2 separate regions of the Homo sapiens genome follow, and region 2 is linked to region 1. Evidence: fine-mapped expression QTL. Tissue or cell type: whole blood. Region 1 holds a variant in brackets; the other region holds the start of a gene. All regions are shown on one strand. Distances are from middle to middle. Region 1 overlaps DENND10 (DENN domain containing 10). Region 2 holds the start of DENND10 (DENN domain containing 10).

Region 1 (4,389 bases):
AACTTGAGTTCTTGCCTTGATTCCCCAGGACTCTGCCTGCCCTGGTGTGGCACCGACAGGACTGGACCATCCTTCACTCTTACGTGCACCTCAACGCCGATGAGCTGGAAGCCCTGCAGATGTGCACAGGTAGACAAGAGGATCCCAGGGGAGGAACTGTTTCACTTTTTTTTTTTTTTTTTTCCTGAGACGGATTTTCACTCTTGTTGCCCAGGATGGAGTGCAATGGCACGATCTTAGCTCACCGCAACGTCCGCCTTCAATTCTCCTGCCTTAGCCTCCCAAGTAGCTGGGATTACAGGCATGTGCCACCACGCCTGGCTAATTTTATTCCACTTTAAAGAGGGTTTTTTGTTTTTATTTTGTGCATTCCCAAGTGGGATACTGATCCTTTATTATTTCTTTGGCACATGCAATCAATTTTTTGCCCTTAAATTTTTTTTTTTTTTTTAGTTTAAAAAAAAATTGTGGCCGGGAGCGGTAGCTCACACCTGTAATTCCAGCACTTTGGGAGGCCAAGGTGGGCAGATCACCTGAGGTCGGGAGTTCAAGACCAGCCTGACCAACATGGAGAAACCCCGTCTCTACTAAAAATACAAAAAATTAGCTGGGTATGGTGGCACATGCCTGTAATCCCAGCTACTTGGGAGGCTGAGGCAGGAGAAACACTTGAACCTGGGAGGCGGAGGTTGCGGTGAGCCAAGATCACACCACTACACTCCAGCCTGGGCAGCAAGAGCAAAACTCCGTCTCAAAAAAAAAAAAAAATTGTGGTAAAATGCATATAGGATTTACCTTTTTTTGGCCGGGCGCGGTGCCTCATGCCTATAATCCTAGCACTTTAGGAGGCTGAGGCAAGTGGATTGCCTGAGCTCAGGAGTTTGAGACCACCCTGGCCAACATGGGGAAACCGTATCTCTACTAAAATACCAAAAAAAAAAAAAAAAAAAATTAGCCGGGTGTGGTGGTGGGTGCCTGTAGTCCCAGCTACTCGGGAGGCTGAGGCACAAGAATCACTTGAACCCAGCAGGTGGAGGTCGCAGTGAGCTGAGACTGAGCCACTGCACTCCAGCCAGGGCGACAGAGCGAGACTCTGTCTCCAGAAAAAAAGATTTACCTTTTTTTTTGAGACCAGGTCTTCCTGTGTTACTCAGGCTGGTCTTGAACTCCCGAACTCAAGCGATCTGCCCATCTTGGCCTCCCACACTGTTGGGATTACAGGTGTCAGCTGCTACGCACAGCTACATTTACCTTTTTAACCATTGGTAAACATACAGTTCAGTGGCATTAAGTACATTCACGTTGTTGTTCAGCCATCATCAAAATGCAGCCTGTTTTTGGCTGGGCACAGTGGCTCACACCTGTAATCCCAGCACTTTGGGAGGCCGAGGTGGGGTGATCGCCTGAGCCCAGGAGTTCCAGACCAGCCTGGGCAACATAGGAGACCTGTCTTTTAAAATTTTTAAATTATAAAATAAAATTTAAAAAATGCAACCTATATTTAACTATTTAACCTGTAAAGTTTTTTTTTGTTTTTGTTTTTTTCTTGGGACGGAGTTTTGTTCTTGTTGTCCAGGCTGGAGTGCAATAGTGTGATCTCAGCTCACTGCAACCTCTGCCTCCTAGGTTCAAGCAATTCTCCTGCCTTAGCCTCCCTAGTAGCTGCGATTACAGGCACCTGCCACCATGCCCAGCTAATTTTTGTATTTTTAGTAGAGACAGGGTTTCTCCACGTTGGCCAGGCTGGTCTCAAATTCCTTACCTTAGGTGATCCACCCACCTCAGGCTCCCAAAGTGCCTGGATTGCAGGCATGAGCCATTGTGCCTGGCCGAACTTGTAAAGTTCTAGTCTTAAAAGTTTATCAGTGACTTTTTTTTTTCATCTTAACTTTTTAATTGTTATGGGTATATAATAGGTATATGTATTTATGGGGTACATATGATGTTTTGATACAGGCCTACAATGTATAATGATTACATCAGGGTAATTGCAGTATCCATCACCTCAAGCATTTATGATTTCTTTGTGTTAAGAACATTGTGATTCCACTTCTAGTTTTCTTTTTTTTTTTTTTTTTTTTTTTTGAGTTGGAGTCTCACTCTGTTGCCCAGGCTGGAGTGCAGTGGCACGATCTCAGCATACTACGGCCTCCACCTCCCAGGTTCAAGCGATTCTCCTGCCTCAGCTGCCTGAGTAGCTGGGATTACAGGTGTGCACCACCATGCCCAGCTAATTTTTTTGTATTTTTGGTAGAGAGTAGAGATGGGGTTTTACCATGTTGGCCAGGCTGGTCTCAAACTTCTGACCTCAGGTGATCCACCCGCCTCAGCTTCCCAAAGTGTTGGGATTACAGGTGTGAGCCACTGTGCCCAGCCAACTTCTAGTTATTTTTAAATATACAATAAACTATCATTCACTGTAGTCACCCTATTGTGCTATCAAATACTAGGTCTTATTCATTCTAACTATATTTTTGTATCCACTAACCATCCCAAATTTTCCCCCTCTCCCCACTACCCTTCCTAACCTCTGGTACCC[A/C]CCATTCTACTCTCTATCTCCCTGAGTTCCATTGTTTTAATTTTTAGCTCCCCCAGATTAGTGAGAACATGCAAAATTTGTCTTTCTGTCCGTGGCTTCTTTTACTTAACATGATGCCTCCAGTTCCATCCATGTTGTTGCAAATGACAGGATTTCATTCCTTTTTATAGCTGCATAATATTCCACTGTGTATATGCACCACATTTTCTTTTCCATTCATCTGTTGATGGACACTCAGTTTGATTCCAAATCTTGGTGGTTGTGAACCGTGCTGCAGTGAACATGGGAATGGTGGTATCTCTTTGATACACTGATTTCCTTTTTTGGGGGTAAATACCCAGCAGTGGGATTGCTGGATCATATGGTAGTTCTATTTTTAGTTTTTCGAGGAATTTCCATACTGTTCTCCATAGTGACTGTACTAATTTACATTCCTACCAACAGTGTACGAGAGTTCTTTTTCTCTACATTCTTGCCATCGTTTGTTATTGCCTGTCTTTTTTGAGACAGAGTCTCCCTCTGTTGTCCAGGCCAGAGTGCAGTGGCATGCTCTCAGCTCACTGCAACCTCCACTTCCCTGGTTCAAGCAGTTCTCTTATCTCAGCCTCCTGAGTAGCTGGAACTGCAGGCACCCACCACCATGCCTGGCTAATTTTTGTATTTTTAGTAGAGACAGGGTTTCACCATATTGGTCAGGCTGGTCTCGAACTCCTGACCTCAGATGATCCACCTGCCTTGACCTCCCAAAGTTCTGGGATTACAGGCGTGAGCCACTGCGCCCAGCCGTCTGTATTTTTTTTTAGAGACAAAGTCTTGCTTTATTGCCTGGGCTTGTCTTGAATTCCTGGGCTCTGGGATTATAGGCATGAGCCACTGTGCCTGGCCATTTTCTTATGAAAATTTTTCTTTCTCTTTTTCTTTTCTTTTTTTTTTTTTTGAGACAGGGTCTTGCTCTGTCGCCCAGGCTGGAGTGCAGTGGCTCAGTCTCGGCTCATTGCAACCTCCACTTCCTGGGCTTAAGCCATCCTTCTACCCCAGCCTCCCAAGTAGCTGGGACTACAGGCACGTGCCACCATGCCTGGCTAATTTTTGTATTTTTTTTTTTGGTAGAGATAAGGTTTCACCATGTTGCCCTGGCTGGTCTCGAACTCTTGAGCTCAACAGTCCTCCCGCCTTGGCCTCCCAAAGTGCTGAGATTATAGGTGTGAGCTACTGTGCCTGGCCTAAACATTTTTAATGTTTTTTATTTCCCAGTGAAGTTATTAATTTATCTGGAATAATTTTTTGTGTAGTGTGTGAGTTTGGGATCTGACTGAACTTTTTTACCCTATGGATAACCACTTGGACCAGGACATTTATTGAATAATCTCTTTCTTTTTTCAGTAATGAGTAATATTACTTGTCATCTGTCACATTTTCTCATTCATGGGTGGGCCTGGGTCTGGCTCTCAGTAGTAGGTTTTGTTTTTGTTGTTTTTTAAATTATTTTGTTTTATCTTATTTTATTTTATTTTTTTGAGACAGAGTCTCGCTCTGTTGCCCAGGCTGGAGTGCAGTGGCGTGATCTTGGCTCACTGCAACTTCCATCTCCCAGGTTCAAGCAATTCTTGTGCCTCAGCCTCCCGAGTAACAGGGACTACAGGCATGTGCCACCATGCCCAGCTAATTTTTTTTTTTATTTTATTTTTAGTAGAGATGGGGTTTCGCCATGTTGCCCAGGCAGGCCTCGAACTCCTGAGCTCAAGCAATCCACCCGCCTCAGCCTCCCAAAGGGCTAGGATTACAGGCATGAGCCACTGCGCCTGGCCACCAGCTAATTTTTGTATTTTTAGTAGAGACAGGGTTTCATC
Region 2 (4,389 bases), 22 kb before region 1:
CAGGTATCATCCCACTCACTGGAGCCTGGACACACCCCTCATTATCTTTCCCCTCCCTGCACCCACTATCATCTCCCTCTCCTTTGTTTAATTATCTGTTCATCATCGTCTTCATCCTCATTTCTTTTCTTTTTTTTTCTGAGATGGAGTCTCACTCTGTCGCCCAGGCTGGAATGCAGTGGCGCGATCTTGGCTCACTGCAACCGTCCTCTCTTGGGTTCAAGCCAGTCTGCCTCAGCTTCCTGAGTAGCTGGGATTACAGGCACCTGCCACCATGCCTAGCTAATTTTTGTGATTTTTTGTTTGTTTGTTTTTGAGATGGAGTCTCGCTCTGTCGCCCAGGCTGGAGTGCAGTGGCGTGATCTCGGCTCACTGCAAGCTCCGCCTCCCGGGTTCACGCCATTCTCCTGCCTCAGCCTCACAAGTAGCTGGGACTACAGGCACCTGCCACCACGCCCGGCTAATTTTTTGTATTTTTAGTAGAGACAGGGTTTCACCGTTTTAGCCGGGTTGGTCTCAATCTCCTGACCTCGTGATCCACCCACCTCAGCCTCCCAAAGTGCTAGGATTACAGGCGTGAGCCACCGTGCCCCACCTAGTGCAAGTTTCTAGTTGGCTTCCAAACTGATTCCACATCTGTGTCCCACTCCTCAGCCTCTAAACACCTGCTTCTTTTCTGTGAAAACTAGACACATTAACAGTTATACTACAACAGGAAGCCCAGAGAATAGAAGGGCACGTAGTTCAGGGTGCTGCCTTCCAGGGGTTCAGTTTAGTGAGAGAAACAGGAATGCCATATACACACCTAAATATACTCCAATGTATAAATTGCAGCCTGGGCAACATAGCGAGAAACTGTCTCCAAAAAAAAAAGAAAGAAAAAAGAAAAAAACAGGCGCAGTGGCTCACGCCTGTAATCCCAGCTACGCAGGAGGCTGAGGCAGGAGAATCCCTTAAAACCGAGAGGCGGAGGTTGCAGTGAGCCGAGATCGCGCTATTGCACTCCAGGCCGGGCAACTGAACAAGACTCCATCTCAAAAAAAAAAAAAAAAAAAGAAAAAAGAAAAAAAGATGAGGGTGGGATTGTATTCCTGCAGACACCAAGGACCCTCCCTAATTAGCTCTGTGTGACTTGGGGTTGGGGCAGACAGTAGATCCAGAGGAGGAATCTTGGAGCCAAATCTTCCAATGTCTGAGTCGTTACTATCATTCAGATCTCAGTTCAAATATCCCTTTCTCAGAGAAGCCTTTCTTGACACCCATTTTAGAGCAGCACACCTCCACTCTCTAACACACTGCCTCCAGGGCACATATCGTTGCCTCCAGGGCACATATCATTCTGAGCTTTTTTACTATTATCTATCTATCTGTCATCTATTTATCTATTTATTTATTTTTGAGACAGGGTCTCACTCTGTCACCCAGGCTGGAGTGAGTGGCAGGATCACAGCTCACTGCAGCCTCAAAATCCTGGGCTCAAATGATTTTCCTGCCTCAGCCTGAGAGTAGCTGGGACTACAGGTGCATGCCACTATGCCTGGCTAATTTTTAAATTTTTTTTGTAGAGATGGGTCTCACTATGTTGCCAAGGCTGATCTCGAACTCCTGACCTCAAGTGATGCTCCTGCCTTGGCCTCCCATCGTGTTGGGATCAGAGGCGTGAGCCACCTCACCTGGCCTGGATTATTTATTCTACTCGCCAATTGTCTGTCTTCCCCAGTGGACTGCTCTGTCTTGTTCAGCCCTATAAGGTATCCCCAGTGCCTTATTAGGCCCTCAATTTTTGTTTTGTTTTGTTTTGGGGGTGGCTGGATGAAGGAATGGATGGAGACCCTTCCTCCATCCTCAGGACGCCTCTTTTTAGGAACAAGGTGACCTGTTCTTTTGAGCTTGACCAGAGGGCAGAGGTAGAACAAGGAAAGCCTACGACGGGAAGAAAGATTGGAGTGGATTGAGAAGAAGAAGGATGAACAGCTGGATTAGAGAAATTGAGGCAGGCTGCGGAGACTCAAGGAGGTTTCCAAGGGCGAAGGGCCACGGGCAGAAGACGAGTGGAGCTGCACTGAGCAGGTCCTGGCAGGGAGGACTGGGGCTGGAATAGGTGGGCCTGCGGGTGGGGCGGGGCCGACGGGGGGGGTTGATGGTCCTGTGATGGGGCGGGGCGGGAGGGAGGCGGGTCCTACAGCGGGAGGCGGGGCCTGTGATGGTCCGGGGAGGGAGGCGGGGCTTATGATGGGCCGGGGAGGGAGGCGGGGCCTGTGATGGGGGCGGGCCCTACGGCGGGCGGGGCGGGGTTCGGGTGCGAGGCCGGTCCTGCAGGCGGCAGCCAGAGCTGCGCGCCGCGGCGGCGGAAGATGGCTGCGGCCGAGGTGGCGGACACTCAGCTGATGCTTGGAGTCGGGCTGATCGGTGAGGACGTAGGCGCCCTGCCTGGAAGCCCGCACCCTGGTTCTGCCTCTGCTCCACCTCGGCCCGGGGCAGCCCGGGCTCCCGCGGCCCCCGGCGCCGACCGCATGAGGAGGGCGCGGCCCCCTCCCTGTTGGGCCTGGACTGGGGACTGCGGAGCCCGGCCTCCTTGGTGCAGGGGACCCGGCCCGCCGCCCTCGCCCGCCCGCCCGCGGCCGCCTGTGGGGCCTGCCCGGCCCGAGGGAGCCCGGGGACCTCCAAGATTCCGGGGTGGAGCTCCCCCTGCACGCCCCGGGTTGCCCGGCGGAGCCGGGACGTCGAGCGCTCCCAGGCTGGGCAGCTGCGAGGGGCGCTGCGCGGGCGGGGCCGGGCCGGGCGGGAGCAGCCGGCTGGCGGCGCGGCGCGGCGCGGCGGGGAGGAGGCAGGGTCCGGTTCCCCCGAGCCGGGGGCGGGCGGCTGCCTCGGAGCCACGGGTGACTGCCCGCCCGGGCGGCCCCCATCGTGGGACCGGGCAGCTGGAGACTGCTGGGCCGGGTGCTGCGCGTTGTACACACATTGTCTCCTTTTAGCTCTCACCAAGGACCGAGGGGCCGTGGGAAACGTCTGACGCCCACTTCACGGAGGAGCAAATGGAGGCCCAGGCCGTCATTGTGCACGGACACACCATAGGCCGTACAGAGCCGGGAGTGGGACCCTCGCAGTGTATCCCAGAGCCCCCAACCCCCACCAGTGGAGAGCTCCTGCATCATGTGATCGAGCTTGTGCATAAATAAAGCAGGAGTTTCTACACAATCCTGTGTGGTGGAATCTCGGTTAGCTCTGAGGAATGTAATTATCTTCCATAATTAAAAAATATCACACGGGGATCTTTGGGCAGCCTCGTGCAGTATTTAGGGGATGGAACCCGTTGGTTCCCTTCGAAAAAGTTTTATTTTCCCGAGATTTTTGCACACCCCTAAACTCTTTCTATTCCCCAAGTGCGCAATAACATTGCTTAGGCTTTAGCAAAACTGAAGAAATATGCTGATTATTTTTCAGTGCCTCAAAGCAGTGCGTTTATGTGGGAATCGCTTACTGTTTTTATTTCTTTGTCTTTCTTCTTTTTTTTTTTTTTAGACGGGGTCTCCCTCTTATCCAGGCTGGAGTGCAGTAGCGCAATCATCGCTCTCTGCAGCCTCCACCTCCCAGGCCCAAACCATCCTCCCGCCTCGGCCTCCGAGTAGCTGGGACCTCAGGCGTGCACCACCACCCGATTAATTTTTGTATTTTTTGTGGAGATGGGATACCGACATGTTGTCCAGGTGGATTACTGTATTTATTTCTAATGTGATTTTCAAACTGCTTCAAAACAAAACCTAAGTAACTTAGTTTCTCCAGAAGGTACTTTTGAACTAAGGCTAAGTTAAACTGTCTTTATCTACTAATAGCAAATAAAAAGATGACATATGATCATATTTTGAACTCAGCAGTTTTTTAATTATTCACACTAACGTGCATTTAAAAGGGGTTTGCAGCCAGCCTGGGCAATGTGGTAAAACCCTCGTGTCTCTACAAAAAATACAAAAATTAGCCGGGTGTGGTGTGCCTGTAGGTGGGAGGATTGCTTGGTCCCAGGAGGCAGAGGTTGCAGTGAACTGAGATCATGCCACTGTACTCCAGCATGGGTGACAGAGTGAGACCCCCCCCAACCCCGTCTCAAAAAAAGAAATTGAAAAAAGAGGCCAGGCGTGGTGGCTCATGCCTGTAATCCTAGCACTTTGGGAGGCTGAGGCAGGTGGATCAATTGAGGCTGGGAGTTGATCAGCCTGGCCAATATAGCGAGACCCTGTCTTCACTAAAAAGGCAAAAAATTAACTGGGCGTGGTGGTGCACACCTGTAATCTCAGCTACTTAGGAGGCTGAGGCAGGAGAATCACTTGAACCCGGGAGGTGGAAGTTGCAGTGAGCTGAGATCAGAGGTGGAGGTTGCAGTGAGCTGAGATT

Evidence for each region. PIP is the estimated chance that this variant, and not a neighbour inherited with it, causes the effect. A credible set is the group of variants that fine-mapping cannot tell apart.
Region 2: it holds the start of DENND10, and the variant in region 1 is the best candidate, but not a certain one, in a credible set for the expression of DENND10 in whole blood (INTERVAL, PIP 0.87).

The regions. Positions count from the first base shown.
Region 1 is chr10:119,123,441-119,127,829 of GRCh38, forward strand. It overlaps DENND10 (DENN domain containing 10), which reads left to right. Exons shown (of 9, transcript NM_207009.4): 6 at 29-129. Among named protein-coding and RNA genes, the nearest start is that of DENND10, 22 kb to the left of the region's middle. The variant A/C (reference allele first, on the strand shown) is at 2,540.
Region 2 is chr10:119,101,789-119,106,177 of GRCh38, forward strand. DENND10 (DENN domain containing 10) reads left to right here and starts at 2,325. Exons shown (of 9, transcript NM_207009.4): 1 at 2,325-2,409. The coding sequence starts at 2,355. RefSeq lists a silencer at 2,114-2,893 and an enhancer at 4,035-4,389.